Linked DNA regions of Homo sapiens. The protein of the gene in region 1 interacts with the protein of each later gene in a biochemical or structural test. Each region holds a gene or a part of one and is shown on either strand. Other genes may lie near its edges.

Region 1 (7,024 bases):
CCTAATACGATGTACTAGGAAAGACACAATGTATTCCTATAAAGGACACCATGTATTCCTGACAAAAATATTTAAAACTAATTTAATCATGAGGAAATAATGAGATAAATCCAGACTGAGATGGGGATAAATGTTCTAAATTTGTGCTATCCAAGAGAGTAGCCATCTATTTTAATTAAATAAAATTTAAAATCCAATTCCTCATCTAACTAGCCACATTTCAAGTGCTCAATAGTAACCTGTGGCTACTTTATTCAACATCCCAGATACAAAACAATTCCATCTGTTAAGGCTCAGAAACCCATACTCCAAAATGGCGTTTTGATATGCTGAACTAAAGAAGCCTCAAGGTCTCTCTGACCTTCTCCCCCTCATCCTCTCTCCCTGGCACAGGATGAAGCTGAAGTTCCTTCATCTGCCTGAGATCCAGACCCACTAAAAGGGACAATTGTTTTTTCTTCCCCTCCCTGTAAGATCAAGAATGTAACCACACTTAAACAGACTCTTTCACGAGATAATGTACCAATTAATTTCTGTCCACTGATCCGTTCATCCTCCCCAGTAATCCCCTCAACAGAATTCCTTTTCTCCTCCTTCCCATAACCTGTTTTGCCAGAATGGCATAAGCCTCTGAATGCCATTGGGAGGTGGGTCATCTCTCTGGTTCTCCCCAGAGAAAACCAGTGTACAGTGTACATGTTAATAAATTTCGTATGCCTTTTCTCCAATTAAAATGCCTTTTGTGAGTTGATTTTCCAGCAAACTTTCAGAGGTTTCTATTTAGATCTCCTACAAGAGAAATCTAAATGATATAAAAATGATAAAGCAGGATTCTTTTTCTTCCTAACCTCTACCTATCGTTTGGACCTCGTGAAAGGTCCAAAGCTGTATCAGATAGCTTTCAGCAAACCTTCAGAGGGCAATAGGGACACTTCCCTTGGCTCCTATACATGTGATCTTTAAATGGATCTTGAATTTTTTAATTAAAAAACAAATCTACAAAGGACATTATTAGTATACTGAAGAAATATGAATATGGATTGCACATTAAAAACTGTATAAATGGGCCAAGCGAGGTGGCTCACGCCTGTAATCCCAGCACTTTAGGAGTCCAAGGCGGGCGGATCACGAGGTCAGGAGATCAAGACCATCTTGGCAAACATGGTGAAACCCCGTCTCTACTAAAAATACAAAAAAAAAATTAGCCAGGTGGGGTGGCACCCGCCTGTAGTCTCAGCTACTTGGGAAGCTGAGGCAGGAGAATCGCTTGTCCCGGAGGGGAGGTTGTAGTGAGATAGCACCACTGCACTCCAGCCTGGGCAACAGAGCACACTGTCTCAAAAAAAAAAAAAAAAAACTGTATAAATGTTAAATTTCTTGGATACGACATATGGTATTGTGATTATGTAGGAGAATGCCTTTTTTTTTGAGACAGAGTCTCACTCAGTGAGCAGTGAGGTTGAGACTGCACCACTGCACTCCAGCCTGGGGACAGTGTGAGACCCTGTCTCCAAAAAAAAAAAAAAACGGTGGGGGCGACTGCATAGGAATTGGTATATTCATTTGGTTCTAAAGGAGAACATGCCTTTGAAAGAAGGAAATAGATCTAGTTTAGCATACCCCCCCACCCCCACAAAACTCCCAATGAAATAACCTTCTCTAATCAGACAGCTAGAAGTTACCTGCTTCCTACTTTCTTATCAGGTTTTTGGTTTGGTTTTTTTTTTTTTTTAATGACACACCCAGCCACAAGAGACTTAAGTATGTAAATTACTTGTGGAACCTCTTAAAGCCAATCACTCTTTATTGCTTTGGTGGCATTTTTATTAGCAGACATCCTTTTTGGTAACTGGAGTAAGTGCAGCAGTAATCTATTTCTAAAAAACAGTATGCTGTACTTGTAACACACCAACACTGCTCAAATTTCTTGCTTTGTAATGAGATCTCTTTAATTATTTACTTCTCTATGTTCTTTGAGAAGTCTGCCTTTCCCTCTCTTCCAGTTTTACATATATTTGTTTTTTATGTAAGAACTTTTCTTTGTTTTGGTTCCCCTAATTTAATCTTCAAAACAATTTATAAGGAAGTTAAAACTTACAGTGGGTTACATATTTCATCTTAATTTACACACATAATTTACACTTGAAAAAGAAGAGCCTCCCAGTTTGAGACTAGAGGGAAAGCTTAAAGATGCAAGTTAATTATCTTTATTCCTTAGCCACTCATCTGATTGAATGACTGAAAGGTAAATCCTTTTCTTTAGCCTTGGCACCCTCCCATCCCATCCTTTTTCATTGAAACAAAATCTAAATAAAGATTCCATATCCTTTTTTTTTTTAATTTTAATTTTAGTAGCCTGTCTTTATTGAATCCTAGTTGTCTTTCCTTAATGCCTCTTCACATTTGAACCACTGTCAACCTTCTCAGACATAAATTTTAGCCACTCCCCTTCCCCCACAAAAGAATCTAAGAAAAGATACACTTGCTGTCTGTTTTTGTTAGTTTACATATTCAGTTGACTACAGCTTACTGTTTTTCAACTTCTGAGAAATTAGTTCTTAATTTTGGAAAATGTAGTAATTCAGTTAATACATCTCTAACTTTTTTTTTATGGAAATTTTCTGACATACCAAAAGCAGAATAAGGCCAGGGGCGGTGGCTCACACCTGTAATCTCAGCACTTTAGGAGGCCAGGCGAATCACGTGAGGCCAGGAGTTAGAGACCAGCCTGGCCAACATGGTAAAACCGGTCTCTACTTAAAATACAAAATTAGAGAGCATGGTGGCTCAGGCCTATGATCCCAGCTACCCGGGAGGCTGAGACACGAGAATTGCTTGAACCTAGGAGGCAGAGTCTTGCCTGGCAGAACAAGACTCAGGGGAAAAAAAAAAGAATTTAGTGTTCATGCTAAAAAGATATCCTGGACATATTAATTACATGGAGAAACCTAGCAGACATCACCTTAACCAAGTGGTCAAAGTTAACATCACTAGTAATTAATAGGACATCCAATTATCACAAACCTGCTGATATGATGCACTGAGAACACTTCTGTGGTGTTCCTGCCAAAAGTGTATAACTTGAGTTTAATCATGAGGAAAGAAATCAGAAAAGCCCAAAATGAGGTACACAACAAAATAACTGGACTGTACCCTTCAAAAATGTCAAGGTCAATAAACAAAAGATTGAGGAACTGTTCGAGATTAGAGGAGACTAAAGAGATATGACTGCTGAATGAAACGCATGACCTGATCTTGGACTTTCTTTGGCTAATAAGGGTATTATTGGAACAACTGGCAAAATCTGAATAAGGTCTGTAATTAAACACTGATGTGGCACTATTATCTAACTCTCTGATTTTGATAATTATACTGTGGCTATAAAAGAGAATATCCTTGTTTTTACAAAATATACACTGAAAAGTACTCAAGGATGAGGGTCATCATGTCTGCCACTTAATCTCACATGGTGCCGAAAAAATATGTATATATTTAGAGCGAAGAGAAAGAAAAGGACAAAGCAGATGTGGTAAAATATTAACATCTGAGGAATATGGGTGAAGGATATTTGCAAATTCTTTTTACTATTATTTCAACCTCTTTAAATTTGAAATTGTCAAAATGCAAAGTTAAAATAAAAAAGTAAAAGGTATGTATTAAAAACATCCTTTAGTGAACCTGAGAAAAGACAAAGCTGTACTGAAATTCAGAGGCGGAGCAATCTACCAGTCTCACTCTCATACTAGTAAACTACCTCTAAAAAAATACCATCAGCAAAATCATCTCATGGAGTCACTTTCAAATTCATGGGTGTCAAGAATGCCATGGGTCTATTCTGAAACCAACAACACAATTAACTCTGAAGTAACAATGTAAATTTTCTGATATATAATTTTACAACTTAAAATTTTTGGCCAGGCATGGTGGCTCATGCCTATAATCCCAGCACTTTGGGAGGCCAAGGCAAGCAGATGGCTTGAGCTCAGGAATTCAAGACCAGACTGGGCTCCATCTCAATTTTTAGAAATTTTAAAGCTATTTTTTCTTTCAGCAATATCAAAACACAACGTAAATACTCCCTTAAGACTGTTAACATTTAAGGTAGAATCAAGTGCAATAAAGAGTCTGTCCTCTTCACTGTTTTCTCTATGCATTCACACTTCCACTGGCATACAGGAGGAAGAAAGTTTAGAACAAACATCCTAACACCTGCAGAACAACACAGATGTCTGCTGCCACATGCAGTGATCTCTGATCCTACAGACCAACAGTGAGATTTATGCAGGAAGCTGAGGAAACAGTGAATATAGAAAGGAAAAGTGGTAGCAAGTGAAACTAAAGTCTTCTTTGCTTTCAAGCAACAATTAAGCTGTAACAAAAGTTCAATCTAGAGTGAATTTTAAGAAAAGCAACTATATGTTCATCTTTTTTTTTCTTTTTGAGACAGGATCTCACTCTGCCCACAAGGCTGGAGTGCAGTGGCATGATCTCGGCTCATTGCAGCCTAAACCTCCCAGGCTCAAGCAATCCTCCCACCTCAGCTGGGACTACAGGCGCACACACTACCATGCCTGGCTAATTTTTTTGTGTTTTTTTTTTTTTTTTTTTTTTTTAGAGACAGGGTTTTACCATGTTGCCCAGGCTGGTCTTGAACTTTTGAGATCACTGCATGTGGCAGCAGACATCTGTGTTGTTCTACAGGTGTTAGGATGTTTGAGCTCAAGCGATCCGCCTGCCTCAGCCTCCCAAAATGCTGGGATTACAGGCGTGCATCAACATGCCCAGCTCTTAAAGGGCTCAATTTTAAGTACCGACTAGTTCATGTTTGAGTGGATCAGAAGCTCAATGTTACAAAATGATGCATAAAATAGTTAACTGCAGATGGAAGACTTGGGCTCATCTTCACTTAATATCAGAATAAATGGGCCAGAATTACAGCAGAGGAGATTTGATGGAACATAAAAAATATTCCAACAATGAGGACTGTCTAAAAAGTTTTTTCAGATGAGACTTTCTGAGGCCTTAAAATGCTCACACATCTTTAAGGTAATTTAATTCACATGTTTTAAGACTATGACTCTGAGGAGCAGGGAGGTTCAGTGACTTTAGTTAAACGGGGAGTAGAAGCAAAGTGATAAAAATGTAATGCCCTAGAACTCCTGGGTCTCAATCTAGTACTCTACATGTTGACTTAATAAAATGTACACAAATGGCTATAAAGAAAACAAGGACTTGCAGACATACTACATATTTAATCAAATCTTGCTTGCTTAAAACAATCTGCAGTGAAACTTTGACAGAGAACATTCTAAAGGAAAGCTACTGTGTTCCAAAGACTGCTTATCCAACCCCAGCACTATTCTTCTGATAACAGAAAAGAATTATAATAAAATAGGTACATAAATCTCCAATTTTCTCATGCCTTAATTGCCGTTCAGCTACTAATTTGCCAACTGTTCTCTATATACCAGGGATAGATAAGTAATTTACAGTATTCAAAATGGGTACTTTACAGGTACTCATTTTTGAAGTCTAGGGCAGTGACAGACCATTCTTTGCTAAGGGTTACTGAGACAAAAAACCTTTAGGTCACAAAAGTCAAGTCAAATCCTATCACAAGATTTTATAAATATAAGCCTTCTCTCAAAAAAGAAATAACAAAACTCCTCAAAATATATATGAATTTTATAGATGGAGAAATTAAGGCCTAAAAGGGTTAGGTAACTTGCCTAAGATTGTACAACTAACAGTAAGTGGAGGAGCCAGGACTAGAACCCAAGTCAGGCTTCCAAATCTTAACTCCTTGACTTTACGCTTACATTTTTACAGTAAAAGAAGATAACATGTTAAAGTTAAAATCTGTTAATCTCTAATACAGGGGCTGCATACAAACAATAAATCAAAACTTGTTACATTATAATTGGAAACTCAATCATATCTCTGTATAGACTTTTTAGAACAATGCCACGTAAAACTATACTATATATTAAGACCACATTTTAAATCATGAGTTCTTAAAAGTAACATACAATTTAAAAGTATTTAAAAACAACCCATCAAAGTACTAATTAGAAGATTAAGACTAATCTTACTAATAAATCTGGTTATTCTAATAGTTTCAGGATAAATATGAGTGAACACTTCTTATCTCAGAGGCTGACCTGGTCATTCACATTCCAAAACAGCATGAACTCCATCTCTTTCCAACTACTTTTTAAAACTTTTCTATATGCAATCATTGGCTGATTTTATCTACCAATTATCTCCCATGATACAATATAGAATACGCAAGGGATACCCTTCTTCTGTATCATGGGAGAATTTTATTTTGTCGCTATAATTTTTAAAAATGTTTTTTCCCTAGCTTTGCCTTTACTAAATTTAAAAAAGGGCATTTATATCTTTCTATAGCTGGGATCTCAATATTTACCTCATAAAAGTACATTTAAACATTACTTTGTGACCATGAAGAATGGAATACCTGGACTGAAGTAATAATGGAAGTGAATGAATTATTTTCAAAGTATTTTTCCCACTATAAATCAGATGAATTAGGACAACTGAAGCTCAGTGAGCAAGGGTTGTAGTTAATTTTGCACTCTAAACAGCTTTTGCTAGAGTAGCTCTCAAATGATAGTCACTCTCGGCTGATATATAGTTTAGTTACTGATTAGTTTGTTTAAATTACCTTCCTAAAACTTCTAGTCCTACTGGTGTAATCTGAAAATACAAGTCTTACCTGTTAAAATTGTCTGAAAAGCAGCTTCTACATTTGTAGAGTCTAGGGCCGAAGTTTCAATGAATGACAAACCATTCTTTTCTGAGGGGAGACACAAAAGTTCAGTCTTGTTAAGTTTTAAAACAAGGAATAGGATATACTCAAGCCCTCAAAAGGAAAAATAACAGAACTTTTTAAAACTTAAGACCTCCTCAACTTCTGGGACAGTAAGGGCACCATTCTGTTTACACTTTATTTATTTACTTACTTTATTTACTTCTTTATATAAGTAGAGATGCAGGTCTC
Region 2 (7,024 bases), on another chromosome or scaffold:
GAGTTCGGCGCCAGGTCCCTGGTAGGCCAAGCTCCCGCTGGCTGAGGACAGGGTGCTGTCCGAGCCCAGCGAGGTGTTGGACTGGGTCAGGGACGACTTGCGCAGCTTGTTGCGGAGGAAGAAGCCTTTGGCTTTGCCCATCTTGCCCAGGCTGCCCAGGTCAGGATCCTCTATGGCGCTGCTTGGGAGGATGGCAGAGGCAGATTCCAGATCATACTTCTTCTTGCCCTTCATCTTGTCCCTGATCTTGCTGAAGGGAGACCTTGGCTTGTCCTTCATGGACAGGTCAAACATACTGGCGCTCAGGTTGTTGCGCGTGAACTGGATGGTGACTTCAATCTCGCCGCGTTCCTTCTCCTTCTTGCCTGGCTTGGAGTGCAGCTTGTACCACCTGTGAGAAGAGGGGAGCAGGCAGAACTCAGTCACGGGCCCAGGGAGCCTGGCTCCCGCCCGGTACCAGGCACTGCCCAGACCCCTCCTTGCTCTGAGAGCCACTGATAGCCTCTCCCCAAAGGCTCCTGCTCTGACCCATCGGCCTGGGCTTCCAGGCTTCAGATGCAGCTGAGAAACTATCCAAAACATTTCCATGATGGAGAAAACCACATCCTGAGTGGGGAAGCTCCTCGGGTGCCACCAGGTAGGGCGGCGGTTACCACACCATGCCTCCTCCCACCCCAGGACCTTCTCCTGGTGCTCAGAGACCTCTCCTCTGCCCCATCTCCCCTACATCTGAAACTCTGAGGCCCAGAGGGGTGAGGCTGGGCCTGGGAGAGCCCTCCCATCTCCAGGCCCCAGCACAGACAGACCTACCCACATTTCTCCCTGTTGACATCATCTCCTCTGGCCAGTCCCAGCCAAAGCTCTGCTCCCAGCCACCGTGAGCCCAGGAAAGAACAGCTCACCCAGAGGCCCAGGGCCAGGAACACAGGAATGCTAGTGCATACACTCATGTATGTATACACACACACACACACACACACACACACACACACCTCACTCACACACTGACTCACCCCAAGCCCTGTCAGGAATACCTCTACAAGATGCAGGAACAGACAAGAATGGCAGAAAGAGACCCAGGAAAGACGAAGAGCGCTCATATCTGTTGAGCATCTATGGTGCATTACGACCAGCATGAGGGTTCTTACCTCACTCCCGCACATACCTCCCAAAAAGCATATGAGGTAAGAGGTACTACCCCATTGTACAGATCAGGAGGGTGAGGCTCAGTGGTAAAGGAACCCATCCGTGGAGACTCAGAGCCAGGTGTCCAGCCCTCCAAAGCTTAAGTTCTTCCCGGTGCACACCCACTGTGCCCAGAGAGACACAGAGACAGCCCCCAACACACATGGCCACCACACAGGGTGGCTGGGGCCCGCCCTACTGGGGAGAGATGTTCTTATGCAGGGGTTGGCAGTTTCTTAGAGAACTAAGCAAACTCCGATCACACAAGGAGCAATCACACTTCTTGGTACTTTGCCTACTGAGGTAAAGACTTATGTCCAAAGAAACACCCTGCACACAAATGTTTATAGCAGCTCTGTTCATGATTGCCAAAACTTGGAAGCTGCCAAGGTGTCCTCCAGTAGGTGAAAAGATAAGCAAACTGTGGTACATCCAGACAATGGAATACTACTTAATGATAAAAATAAATAGGCTATCAAGCCATGAACAGACACGGATGGATCTTACATACATAAGTGAAAGAAGACAATCTGAAAAGGCTTCATGCTTGCACGACAAAACTATTTGACATTCTGCAAAAGGCAAAACTATGGAGACAGTGAAAAGATCAGTGGTTGCTGGGGGATTGAAGAGAGGACAGAGCGATGAATAGGCAGAGCACAGGGACTTCTCAGGAGAGAAAAACTATCCTGCATGCTACCGTAATGGTGGACATGCATTGTTATACACCCACAGAATGCACAAAACAGCAAGTGAACCCTAACATAATGTATAGACTCTAGTTAACAATGACGTGTTGATATTGGCTCTCAAATACAACAAACATGCCACACTAATGCAAGATGTTAACAGAAGAAATGGCGGTGGGGGCGTGGGTGGAGTAGATGGGAACTCTCTATACTTTTCACTCGTTTTTCTGTAAACTTAAAACTGCTCTGAAAAATAGACTTTATTAACTAAAAAAAAGAGAGCAGGGAACACAAAAAGGAAGAAACTATGAAGGAAATCATACAAGAATGTTTTTCTGAACTGAAGAACATGAATGCTAGAACAGTCCTACAAGTATGCAGCGCAATGAACTAAGACAGACACATGCCAACAGATATGACTATGAGGCTTAGAACACCAGGCATGAAAGGATTCGAACAGCACTGGAGTCTTCCTTAGCAACACTGGGCACCACATGAAGGAATGTCTTCACATTTCTGAGGGAAAAGCCTTCCACTAGCCTGGAATTCCAGACCCAGCCAATCGAGCATGAAGGTGGAATAAAGCCCGGTGGTAGTGGTCAGGCTGGTCACTAAAGGGCTCAAAGTCCCTTGGTGACTGCACAGCACACACACACATACACACACACACACACGCACACAGAGCTACCCAAGCCGCAGTCAGTGATGCAGGATCCACCTCCCGCCTGAGCTCTGCCCCCAACAATGCCAGCTCCCTGAGCTTCTGGTGGACACAGAGTGGGGTGTGGGGAGCCTTTGTATGAAAAGTCCCTATACATCCAAAGATCCAGAATTAAGTCACAGCAAAAGCTTGGTGGTAGTGGTGGTAGTATTTTGATTATTTTTTAATGTTGAAGTTTTTTTAAAAAGGCTTCCTGGGGCACCTCTGACTCTTCTACATCCCTATAGAAGAGCCCATCATGACGAAATCCTGGTGGGCTATGGCCCGTCCCCTCCGTGGAGACCTACTCCGCAGCCTGAGCGGCCTGAGCCTAGACTTTGGTTTTCCCTCCCAAACCTGAGAGACAATCCCCTGAGAAGGCCGGGTAGGAACAGATGGTGCCACAGGCAGGGCGGACAGAGAAAATGCCCGAGCGGGTGCCTCTCTCATAAGGCACGGGCAGAAGTGAGGGGAGGAGAGGCTAATTGAGACAGACAGACTGGAGGATGTATGTGAGGGTGTCTGTGGGGCAGGAGAGGAAGTTTGACAGAAAGACCAGCCAGCAGCATCAACAGCCTCACACCTCTACGTTCTCAGCCCAGTGACCACCGTGGGCCTGACCCTTTACCTATTTAGAGGCCAAGCCCTAGTCACTTTCCCTAAATCTGGGCTAGGCCCTATCTAGCACAGGAAAGTCCTGGGAGGTAGGGCAAAAGAGAAGGGTATGGACTCCAGCCCCAAACCGCCCAAGCCCTGAGTAACTAGGATCAGCAAGCACAGCCAGCCTTTGCTGGGGCAGACAGGTCAGGGGCCCTCAGCCCCAGCTACTCACACTGCACACACCACAGCGGTAATGCAATTACCTGAGGGGACCGGGGCCCTGTGGTGAGATTGCAGGGAACTAGCACTTCCTACATTGTCTATTTTTGTCCTATTTGAATGTTTTATAAGGAGCATATATTACTGTGGTAATAGGAAAAAGAGACAAGGGAAAGCTCTTGCTCCTATCTCATCTCAGCTTCCTGAGCCACAAAATGGGCCGTGCTCCTCTGCCTCCCAGCCCTCAGAGGAAGGCGGGAGGCCGAGTTTCAGGTCCTTTGCCACAAGGACCTTTTGGGCCTCTCTCCCCTATAAGGTCACTTCCCCTTCTCCTGTTCTGCCCAGCCCTCCCCCACAGGGAATTTGGGTTTCTCCCTGGACTTGTTTTTCAAGGAAGCACGGAAGGAAAAAGAAAAAGCTTCCCTGAATATTTTTTAGGCTCTCCCATCCAGAGCACAGTGAAATGGAGAATGGCCAGGACCTACCTCTGGACCCCAGCTGCCATCACTCGTCCACCTCCCTTCCAGCCCCACCTCCCTCTGCAACCCAGTCAAGGGCAGGACTGAATGGGATACTGCCTGGCACCTTGGCCACCCTGGGCACCCCAGGGACTCAACCAGAGCAGACCTTCTCCCAGAAGTATGGCCTACATGAGCTGAGATGGCCACATCCTCCCCCTCCCTAGAGGTGCTACTTCCCTGTGCCTGGACCAGACAGCCCCACAGACCTGTCGGGCACCATGGAGGTCCACTGGAGAATGGAAAACTATGAACACTGTCGAGGGGGGCTGAGGAATCCGCAATGAAAACAAATGGAGGCTTTCTTTTCACAGAGCCCCACACGCAGCAGAGCAAATGGGCTCTGAGCACCTCATCCCTAGAGACTGAAGCCCCCACGGGGAATATGACAGCAGGGTCCTATGACCTAGTTCAAGTCCCACTCCTCTGGGAAGCTCCCTCAGCTGCCACCATCCTGCTGGCCTGGCCCAGTCCCTCCTCTTTCTGACCAGGCATACACACTCTGAACCAAACTCACTCTACAGCCAGATCTGGCAGCACCGTGCCCCAGGACCCCCTGGTGTTGTCATGTCCTGGGCACCCAAGGTCTCCCTTGCTGGACTGTGTTTCTTGTGGATATTGACTGAGTATCCCCTGGGGCACACAGCTCCAAAGTAAAGAAATCATGCATGCACAGTCTGGAGCTGTTACAACCCTGCAGGGCCCTCTCTCAGCTCTCATCTGGATGCGCCTGACAGCAGGGCATGGTGGTGAGTGCTGGGTCCCCCACTGACCAGGTCACCTCCCTCAGCCTCCGCTTCCTTGGCCCTCAGGTGGGGACAACCATCCTCTTGGCTGTTGGGAGGCTAAGGCACGCCAAGCCTGGTTGGCAAAACCAGCTTATCCTCTCACTCTCTCCCACGACCGTGAGCTCTTAGGACTCCTGCTCTTGAATCCCTGACGCCGATCGCTCTGCCTAGCCTTCAAGGGAACGTGCCAGATCCTTTAATAAATATTCAACCTCGGACGCGCATGGTGGCTCATGCCTGCAATCCCAGCACTTTGGGAGGCCAAGGCGGGCAGATCACTTGAGGCCAGGAGTTTGAGACCTGCCTGGCCAACATGGCGAAACCCCGTGTCTACTAAAAATACAATAATTAGCTGGGTGTGGTGGCACACGTTTGTAATCTGAGCTGCTCGGGAAGCTGAGGCATGAGAATCACTTGAACCTGGGAAGCGGAAGTTGCAGTGAGCCAAGATTATATCACTGCACTCCAGCCTGGGCAACAGAGTGAGACTTTGTCTCAAAAAAAAAAAAAAAAAAAAAAAAATCCAACCTCAACTTCCCAAGTCTGGCTGTGCAAGAGATAGGCCCTGGTCTCCAGTTTTGGAGATTCTGCTACTGTTCCTTCCTCCCTACCTGATCAAGGTTTTTTCTCCCTCTCTGTGCCCTTCACCAGGCCTAGCTGACTGGGGCACTGGGCTTAGGAACTCCAAAGCCCAAGCTGAGGCCTGACCTGTCACTTTCATCCAGGGCAGAGACATGGCCAAAATCAATCAGGGTGTGACCAAGGCCCCAACATTCATCTAGACAATGGCTCACAAGACAGCTCTCATTTTCACAGCTCCACAGCTGTAGCACCCAAACCTGCTATGCATCGGTGCAGGATTTATATACAGATATAAATCCACCCAAGACGCCACCCAGACTTACTGAACTAGAAGGTCCCGGCCTGGTTATCTATATTTCTCAGTGGGTTTGGGGGTGGGGCCCCACAGGTGAGTGAATTCACCCAGACCCCATGTGGGAACCACAAGGATGGTCCCTAACGCTTTACATCACTTTAAGGTCAGCGGCCACCTGGGCTCTCCACCTGGGCTTGTCCTTAAGGACACTCAATCGGTACCCAGGAGAAACCTGTGTCTTTCTCCTGCCCAGTAAGGCTTGCCTTCCCAAGTCCCGAGGACACGCTGCTTCTGAGAGGACTGACCCTAGAAATACTCATCCCTCCCCCAGGAGGGGGTAAGTTACCAAAGGAACACACTGGGGAGGAGCAGGCAGCATTAAGCACTTTCTAGAAATTAAGAGTGTTAAGATGAATTAGGCCTCCTAGATCAGAAACCACTGGAGAAACAACACTCTCACCAAACCAGGAGGAAGGACAGTGATTCTGCCCCCATACAATTCCCCTGACACCCACCTGGTGCTCAGAGTCCGGGCTGCCTGCAGCACATATATCACTAACTGGCACATCCTTCACTGCAGGAACTAAGCTGCTCCACCTGCAAAGCACCCACCTTGACTTCATCTCTCTGTCAGGGGCACCATCTGGGGCACTTGAACTCTCCAAGGCCCAGCCAGCACATGCTCAGGACACAAGGGTTTTGATGAAGATGGTGATTATCTGGGACTTGTCCCAGGTGCCTCTGCAGCCAGGACATGATGGACACAGTAAGAAAAGGCACAGTAAGAGAAAATTCCTTGCACCTGAAGAGGCACACGCAGCTACTGATGCTGCTCTTCAGAAGACACACATCAGTGCTTCTCAAACTGCAAAGTGCAAAAAAAAATCACTGGATCTTGTTAAAATGTGTATTCTGATACCCAAAGTGTAGGTGGACCTGAGAGAGCTCCCAGCTACCCATGCTGCTGCTGGCCCAGAGGCCACACCTGAGCAGAGGGCTGCACATGAGGGGGCTAGAGAATGGCCAGAGCTGACCCTGCTGAGGGCTCACTGTGTGCCTGGCTCTGCAGCTCTTTTATTATCCATGCAACCAGCCCAGGAGATGGGAGGCCCATTTTACAGATGAGGAAACTAAGTTGTGGAGATGGTTTGTAAGTTGCCCAGGGCCACACAGCTAGTAAGTAATGGAGCTGGAACTTGAACATGAAAATGCCAGCCTCCAAGCCCATGTCCTTAACCTTTAAGGTTTAGCAACTTTCAGAAAAGCAGAATGCATATACTCCTGCCCTGAGTACCCTGAGAAGACAGAGGCCAGTAAAGGCCTGGCTACACATCACAGACCCTGAAGACCAGACCCCCTTTCAAAAGGTTGGCACAATCCCAGAGCACAGAGCCCTGAGATGCCACTGAGGGGACCTCAGGGTTTTGTCCTGTCCTTAGCCCCTCAAA
Region 3 (7,495 bases), on another chromosome or scaffold:
CACAGCTGAGAGTGATAGAGGTAGGATGCTAGATTCTCTTTCTTGACAGATACAATGTGATGAAATGAACAAGACGAAATTAAATGGGAATAAGGGCCAAGAAACAGGCTTAGATTCCAGAAATTACTGACAGACAACAGGCCCGAATGCTTCCACAAGCCAGGATTGTTAAAAGAAAAAAGAAAAGAAAAGAAAAGAAAAAGGAATTGTGTACAGTAAGAGAGACTAAAAGGTGACAACAACCACATACACTGCACAGTCCTGGAGAGGAAACAGCAAAAATGGACATTTTGGGGTCAAATAGGGAAATCTGAAAAAGGTCTGCATATTAAACCAGATGAAAATTTATTGAAGCAGAAAAGTCATGATCATTTACCGGCAAAAAAAATCAGGTTACAAAACAGTATGCACAGTATGATCTCATTTTCTGGAGAAAATTGACATATAAGCATGGAAACAGCTCTGGAAAGGTCTGACAGAAGTGTCATTGAGGCGCTGCCTGAGAGATAGGACACAATACTTTTTATTTTGCTTGTCCCTATTTCCAGTTTTCTGCAATGCATATCCACCGCTTCTGTAGTAATCTCAGAGTATGCTTTTAAAAGAAAAAAATCACTGACCCTCCCCGAAGGGTGGAGAATCCCTGGCTTGGCAGAGGTTTCTAAAACAGATCCCTGGAGGTTTCGGTGGCCAGAAACTTAATATAAGCAGAGTGCAGTGCCCCATTCAGAGGCAGCCCCACCCTAAGCTGTGTGCATATGTGTGAGGTCTTGGGGCTAATATAGTCCTGGTGGGGGCGGCGGGGGGCGGTCTGCTTGTCCAGCCCTTTCATGTTATTGCTAGGAAAACTGAATCACAGAATTAGTCGATGGCAGCTCCAAGGCCAGAAGCCAGAGGTCTGGCTACTGGGTCACATGGAAATGGCCTAGGGCTTCAGGAACTGGGGTATTTGGCCTGGAGAAGGGAAAATGGGAGTATGGAGCTGGGAAGGAGAGAAGGGGCAGGAGTGCTATTTTCAAATATTTAAAGGCTCCCCCAAAGAAGAGAGACCTATGTGAGTCCCCGTGCAGAACGGTGATGACTAAGTGACAAGCAGGTCTGTCTCTAGAGTGTATGAGGGAGAAGGTTCTAATGGCAGGAACTGTCCAGCTGGGGGAGAAGTGGGTGAGGCTTGCTGGGCACGTGGCTGAGGCCGGTGGCCCCTGCCAGAGGTTGTTGGGAGGCCCTTCCCACTACTGAGGCTCTGAGTTCGGGGACTCCAGGTTTCAGCCAGAGCTGGTAGCTTCTTTACCCGACCTGCAGTCTGTGTTCTGAGAGGAAGGAGCGCGACTATCCCCATGCCAGGAGTCTGCTCAGCCTGCCCCAGATGGGAGCCACTGGAAAAACGGAAGGGCTTGGCTGGCCTTTGGGGAAGAAGGGTCATGGTGGCAGCAGGCAGTGTCCCTCAGCAAAGCCCCGCAGAGGGCAGTCTGGGCTCTCACAGGCACTGCAGTGGTCTTTCCTGTGGTGGGTACCTGAGTTCTCAAGCCCTGAAGCTGCCTCACTCTCTTCTGCCCACAGCTCTCAGCGACTCACAAGTCCCGGCCCATGCCCAGGTGCGGGTGGAGAGATGATTCTCAATCGCCTCCCACTCTCTGGTGACGCAGAGGCACGGGCCCAACCTGGCCATCACCCAGCTTCTCCCATGTTCTGAAATGCCTGGTCCGACCTGTTCTGGGAACACAATGCCAGCCAGTGCCCATTTGAGGCCCATGGCCCCAGGCCCCCCATGCAGGGCCTGAGGCCTTAGATGGCCTTGGAAACCCACTTCTCAGGGCTTTTGGCTCCAGGGGAAACCCCTGACCATTTCAGCCAGGTGGGTGTCTTGTCCTCCCCTTGAGACACAGTCCCCAGTCCCCATGCCGGTGGCACCAGAGGACACTGGTGTAGTGTGCGTTTAGTGATATGACTCCGTCCACCCTACTGGCGGCACCGACCCTCCGCTTCCAGCCCTGTTAACAATCTACGTAAGTCCTGCTTTCCCCAAATAGATGCGGCCCCGCCACATGAAAGCCCTCTGCTCAGCCACCACTCCCCGAGCCTGGCTTTGCCTGGCCTGCTGCAACCAACACAGCCAGCTGCCAGCCTGGCTGCCCAGCAGAGCCTGAATGAGAGGTCACCCGACACTGGCCCGGGAGTACACGGTGGCCCCAGCAGACACCTCCTTCCGTGTCTGGGCAGGGTGTGTGCAGCCGAGGAGCCAAGGCTGCAGAGCACCCCTACCGGTCCCTTTCACCCCCTGGCCCGGCCCAGCAGGACGTACACAGACCCTTGCATCTTGGTCTCCGCAGCGCCGGGTGGGGTGGGGAGCCTAGGGCCGGATTCTGGCAGCTCTCTCCCCCAGACAAGGGTGGATGTGCAGACCGCTCAGAAGGACCTGCATGGCCGAGGAAGGAAGGTGGGCGCAGAAGCCACCCTAGGCGTGACGCGTGACGCTCGGGGCACGGGCGCCGGGGGGCGGAAAGCGAGGGCCCGGCTGGGCCAGGGATACCCGGGGGGGGCCGAGGTCCTGGGCTCCGGCGGAGGGAGGGGATTGGGAGGGAGGCCACCGCCTCGGGCCACGCGGGTGACCCGGCGGGGGAGCTGGGGGAGGGGCGGCGGGGCTGGGCTGGGGTCCCCGGGCCGGGACTGGGGTCGGGCCAGCTTACCTCCTCGCCCTGGCCGAAGCGCAGTCCGAGCGCCGCGACGCGCTCCACGCGCAGGAAGCCGTCGGGGTCGCGGCCGCACACCTCGAACACCTCGCGCAGGCGGCGCACGGAGCGCAGCAGAGCCGCGGGGGCGCCCGACCAGCCCGCGCCGCCCGCCATCCGGGCCGGCCCGCAGCTCAGCCCGGACCCCTCGCCCGCCGCGCCCGCCGCCTGCCCGCCGCCGCCATCGCCGCGCGCCCTCCGGGGCCGCCCGTCTGGGTCTGCGCCGCGCAGCCTCCGCCCGGTGGCGGCCGCGGCCGATCCGTGTCAGCAGCGGCGCCGCAGCCCCAGCCGCTCCGGAGGGGAAGGGAGGGGAGGGGAGGGAAGGAGAAGAGTGGGGAGGGGAAGGAGGAGGGGCAATAGGGGGCGGGGAGGGGAGGGGCGGGGGCCGCGGCGAAAATGGGAGGGAGAGGGGGAGGCGGCGGGGGCGGCGGCGGCGGGGACGCTGCAGACAAAAGGAGCCCGCGTCCTCCCGAGTGGGGCGGCCCACGCGGGGCCGGCAGGCGCAGCGAGCTGCCAACGGCCGCGTCCTCCGCGACCTCAGTTTCCCTCCGCGTCCCCAGTTTCCCTCCGCGTCCCCGAGCCCACCCCTTCCTCTGGACACCCGGAGCCACCCAAAGGCCCTGCCCTGCCGGAGGATTCCGCGGGGTCGCGCCCCTTTCCGCTATCCGTGCCCGCTGCCGCGCCTGGCGTCTCCCGAGCGCTCAGGATGTCCTGGGGGCCTCCTGCATTGGCGCGTTCCGTGACTGCATTCATCCCGGAGGAAGCTGAGGCCCAGAGAGGTCGGACTCACTCTAGGCCACACAGCTGGCAAGAGGCAGGGCCGGGATTCGCTGCCATCTCTGGAGGGCTCTGGACTCCGTTCTTCACCTCCGCCCTGCGGTCTCCCGGCGCTCTCCTGCAAGACAGCACTTGTGGGGCCATCGGGCGGGGGAGGGCACAGAGAGGAGGAGCAGGCAACTGAACCCCAGCCTGGACCCGGGACCCTGCGACGGGGAGATGAGGAGAAAACCAGGATGAGGCCGGAGGGAGGAAAAGCGAGGCGCTTCCAGAGGCCTGCCTGTTCAGGGCCCAAGGCTGCTCCACGCCTGGAAGAGGCTTCCTCCCTTTCGCCGGGTTCCCACCATCACACCTCCCTGGCAGCCCGCATGCCCCAAGCTCAGAGAATCCAGGACAGAATCTCTGTCCCGCTGGCCGCAGGCTCTAGGTCAGGACCCTGGCCTCCTCCCATTAGTGCTCAGCGGAGCCTCCACCCCAGCTTGTGCTAACTTCCCAGCCCAGCCTCGGGGCCCTGCAGGACCCGGCCGGGCTCTTCTCTCCACCTTCTTGCTCGGCACATCAGGTCTTTGTGGCAACGACTGGCCCCAACCCAAAAAAAGGCCTTGGCTGAGTCTACTCCCACCTATGCTGTCATGCTCAGCACAGAGGTTTCCTCCTCCGGGAAGGCTTCTCTGATGGCACGCCATCTTATCTTCTATTCTGAGTTCTAAGCCCTTCTTCCAGGTGCCCAGTTAATTCTTAATTCTCTAGTGGGATGCCCATTTCCCCTACCATGCTGGGAAGCCCTCCAGGGCAAGATATGTCTTAATTACCTTCAAGTCCCTGATCTCCAGGCAAGAGTGGGCCCAGAGGAAGCCCCACCCAGAGGGGATGGGCCCGCCCATTATGTGAGGAGCCGGGAGCAACGTAGTGGCGCAGACAGGGAGTACGGGGTGAACTGCATGGCCTCCCCTAGCTGGGCCTCGGTTTGTACCTCTGTGGTCTTCCTGCTCAACCCTGAATATATCCTGCGCAGGGACTGCCATTTGCCTTCTGACAGTGGGCGGGGACCTCTTCTTTCCAGCCCCGGCTCCTGGGATGAACCTGGCTTTTAGCTACTCTCCTTTGACCCTTCAGTTCGTCTGAGAGCCACGAAAGGCAACACCTCTTGGGAAGAGAGACCTGTGGTTCTGAGGATTGAGGAGTCCGAAATGTGAGAAAGCGGGAAAGGGGAGGCCGTGGGAGTGGAGTAGGGGTATTCGGCTGAGTAGGAGCGTCTCTGCTAGCTGGATGCCGCTCAGCAGGATACTAGCATATTTTAGCCGGTTTCCTCGCCTGTACCGTGAGGATAATAGTACCTTCCTTTTAGGGCAACTGAAGATGAGAGCGAATCTAAGCAATGCTGCTTTCCCCCGACCTACCCTGCAAAATGGAGGTGGAAGTGGAGAATAAGGACAAGCAGCTGGCTGGGAGAGACTGGCTGCTGGAGATCCAGCCAGCCCCCTGGCAAGGAGGTAGGGAGTGGAAGCTGGGGGCTGCTGCCTGCCCCTGGGACCCCGATATTAGTTCGTCCAAGGTCAGCTCGTGCCATTTTCTCTCACCCAAGGGGCTCAGCACAGAAAGGAGATGGCCAGGAGCTGGGGCTGCCCCCTGGTGGGGGCTGCAGAAATGGCTCTCCGCGCTCAGCCTGGCATTGAATGCCCCCTAACTGGGGACAGGGGAGCTGGAAGACTCACCCACTTCAGCTGGCAGAGGCGGGGACCTCAGACCTGAGCATGAACAAATCCCAAGTGAACCAAGACAGAATCCCGCAACCAGATTAGCCAGTTCTTGTCAAAGACAGGATCATCACAAATTCAAAAATCCCCCAGGAGAGCTTTCCCTGACCGGACTCTCCTTGCCCAGGTCTCTGCAGTTTTGTCTCTGGTGGGCGATGGTTTGAAGGACACCTGCCTCCCCCACCAGTGGCACTGGGTCTCTTGCTCACCGCTGTGCTGCTGGGGCCAGCAAAGCACGTCACAGGCATTCTTTCTGGGGTTGTCACGTTTTTGTTGAGCACCTACGTTGTGTTGGGTATGCTAGGGAGACAGTGAAAGGGGTGCAGCCACTTGCTGAACTTGATGGGGGCAGTCATGGCCCAGTGTGATCTACACTGAGGTGCCAGGCTCTAGGAGCCCAAGAGGGCCTGCAGAAATGGCTGAGTGCCTACCCAAAGGTCCCTCAGAGATGGTGCAATTTATGGAGTCCTTGGGTCCTTGGAAGTGGACCTGGGACCACTAGGGCTCCCAAAACCCTGATCCAAGAGCTCAGAGTGCAGCCCCGAGCAGAAGCAGCAAGAGAATACCCATGTCAGGGCCGGCTGCAGGGTGAAGGGGGTTGCTCCAGGAAAGCAAGAGGTCCCCATGGATAGGGCGGGAAGGCGCGGAGCCTCCTTTCTGTCCTCCGCTTCCTCCAGGTGACCTCTGATTCTCCAGGGGATTTCCAACAGCTGCAGCAGCCTGGGCAGGCTGGAAATATACTGGGAAATATACATGGAAGGGACAGTTGGGACTCCGGCCCCTTCTCTAGGAAGAAACAAGTTTGATCAGGTCCCTCCCCTGCTGAAAACTCAATGGCCACCATTGCCTGAGCTGGCATTGTGCAGTGTCTTCATACTCTCCTGCCTCTCCTTAACCCTAGTCTGGGAGCATCCAGGCTCCCTCCTGCCTCCCTTTGCTTAGTGGGTGGGAGGTCTCAATCCTACCCCCACCCAATTCCACTTTCTCTAATTCCTGTCCTTGTGTTGTGGAAGTGGCACTTCCTACCGGAAGCCTTTCATGACCACCCCACTCCTTGCCCACCTTGACCACCTCTCCCATGTGCTCCTGCAGAGAAGTGAAAAGTACAGACTGCAGCCCACTTACAGGTATGGATAAGGCTGTGGTGAGAGTCAGTAAGTTAATACATACATTGTAAGTGTCAGAACAGTGCTGCTGGTTAGTGACAGCTATTGTCCTTGTGACTATCCTTACCATCTTACTCCTATTGTCTATCACCGGATTATCTGGGAAACTGTATGAAAGGTCACAGGAGTGACCATGAGGTCCCTGGGAGCAGGGACTGTGTCTATTTCTCTCCTGATTTCTGTAGCTCCTAAATAATGCCCATACACACATAGTTAGGGTCTGTGTAGGAATAAATTAAGGAATGGACAAATATGGCATGGTAGGCTGAAAAATGCCCCCTTAAATGATATCTATATTCCAATCCCTGTACATCAGTGGTCCCCAACCTTTTTTGGCACCAGGGACTGGTTTCATACAAGTCGGGGGAAGAGGGTCTTGGGATGAAACTGTTCCAACTTAGATCATCAGGCTTCAGATTCTCATAAGGGGTGCGCAACCTAGATCCCCCTCCTGCGCCATTCACAATAGGGTTCCCGCTTCTATGAGAATCTAATGCCACTGATCTGACGGAAGGTGGAGCTCAGGCGGTAATGCCCACTCACCCGGCGCTCACCTCCTGCTGTGGTTCCTAACAGGCCATGAACTGGTAATGGTCTGCAGTCTGGGCGTTGGGACCCCTGCTGTAAATGTTACCTCATTAGAAAAAGGGTCTTTGCAGATGTAATTAAGGATCTGGAGGCTGGGCGTGGTGGCTCACGCCTGTAATCCTAGCACTTTGGGAGGCTGAGGCAGGCAGATTGCTTCAGTCCAGTAATTCGAGACCAGCCTAGGCAATGTGATGAAATCCTGTCTCTACTAAAAAATACAAAAATTAGTTGGGCATCGTGGCATGTATCTGTAGTCTCAACTACTCAGGAGGCTGAGGCAGGAGGATGGCTTGAGCCAAGGAGGTGGAGGTTGCCGTGAGCCCAGATCATGCCACTACAGTCCAGCCTGGGTGACAAGAGTGAGACCCTGCCTCCAAAAAAAAAAAAAACAAAAAAAAAACTAACAACAAAAAAAACAACAGGATCTGGAGACAGGGGGGTTATTCTGGGTTAGCTAGGTGGACCCTTAATGCAATCA

The links. The genes of interacting proteins can lie anywhere in the genome.
Region 2: the proteins of RAB11A (region 1) and RAB11FIP5 form a complex in vitro, tested with the Homo sapiens proteins (2 studies listed by BioGRID).
Region 3: the proteins of RAB11A (region 1) and RAB11FIP4 form a complex in vitro, tested with the Homo sapiens proteins (2 studies listed by BioGRID, with this or other methods).

Annotation. Positions count from the first base shown.
Region 1 is NC_000015.10:65,879,467-65,886,490, reverse strand, and holds part of RAB11A (ras-related protein Rab-11A), read right to left. Parts: intron 6,821-7,024; coding exon 6,740-6,820; intron 1-6,739. UniProt on the Homo sapiens protein: The small GTPases Rab are key regulators of intracellular membrane trafficking, from the formation of transport vesicles to their fusion with membranes.
Region 2 is NC_000002.12:73,088,925-73,095,948, forward strand, and holds part of RAB11FIP5 (rab11 family-interacting protein 5), read right to left. Parts: intron 392-7,024; coding exon 1-391. UniProt on the Homo sapiens protein: Rab effector involved in protein trafficking from apical recycling endosomes to the apical plasma membrane. Involved in insulin granule exocytosis. May regulate V-ATPase intracellular transport in response to extracellular acidosis.
Region 3 is NC_000017.11:31,387,204-31,394,698, reverse strand, and holds the start of RAB11FIP4 (rab11 family-interacting protein 4), read right to left. Parts: upstream 3,025-7,495; 5' UTR 2,847-3,024; coding exon 2,688-2,846; intron 1-2,687. UniProt on the Homo sapiens protein: Acts as a regulator of endocytic traffic by participating in membrane delivery. Required for the abscission step in cytokinesis, possibly by acting as an 'address tag' delivering recycling endosome membranes to the cleavage furrow during late cytokinesis.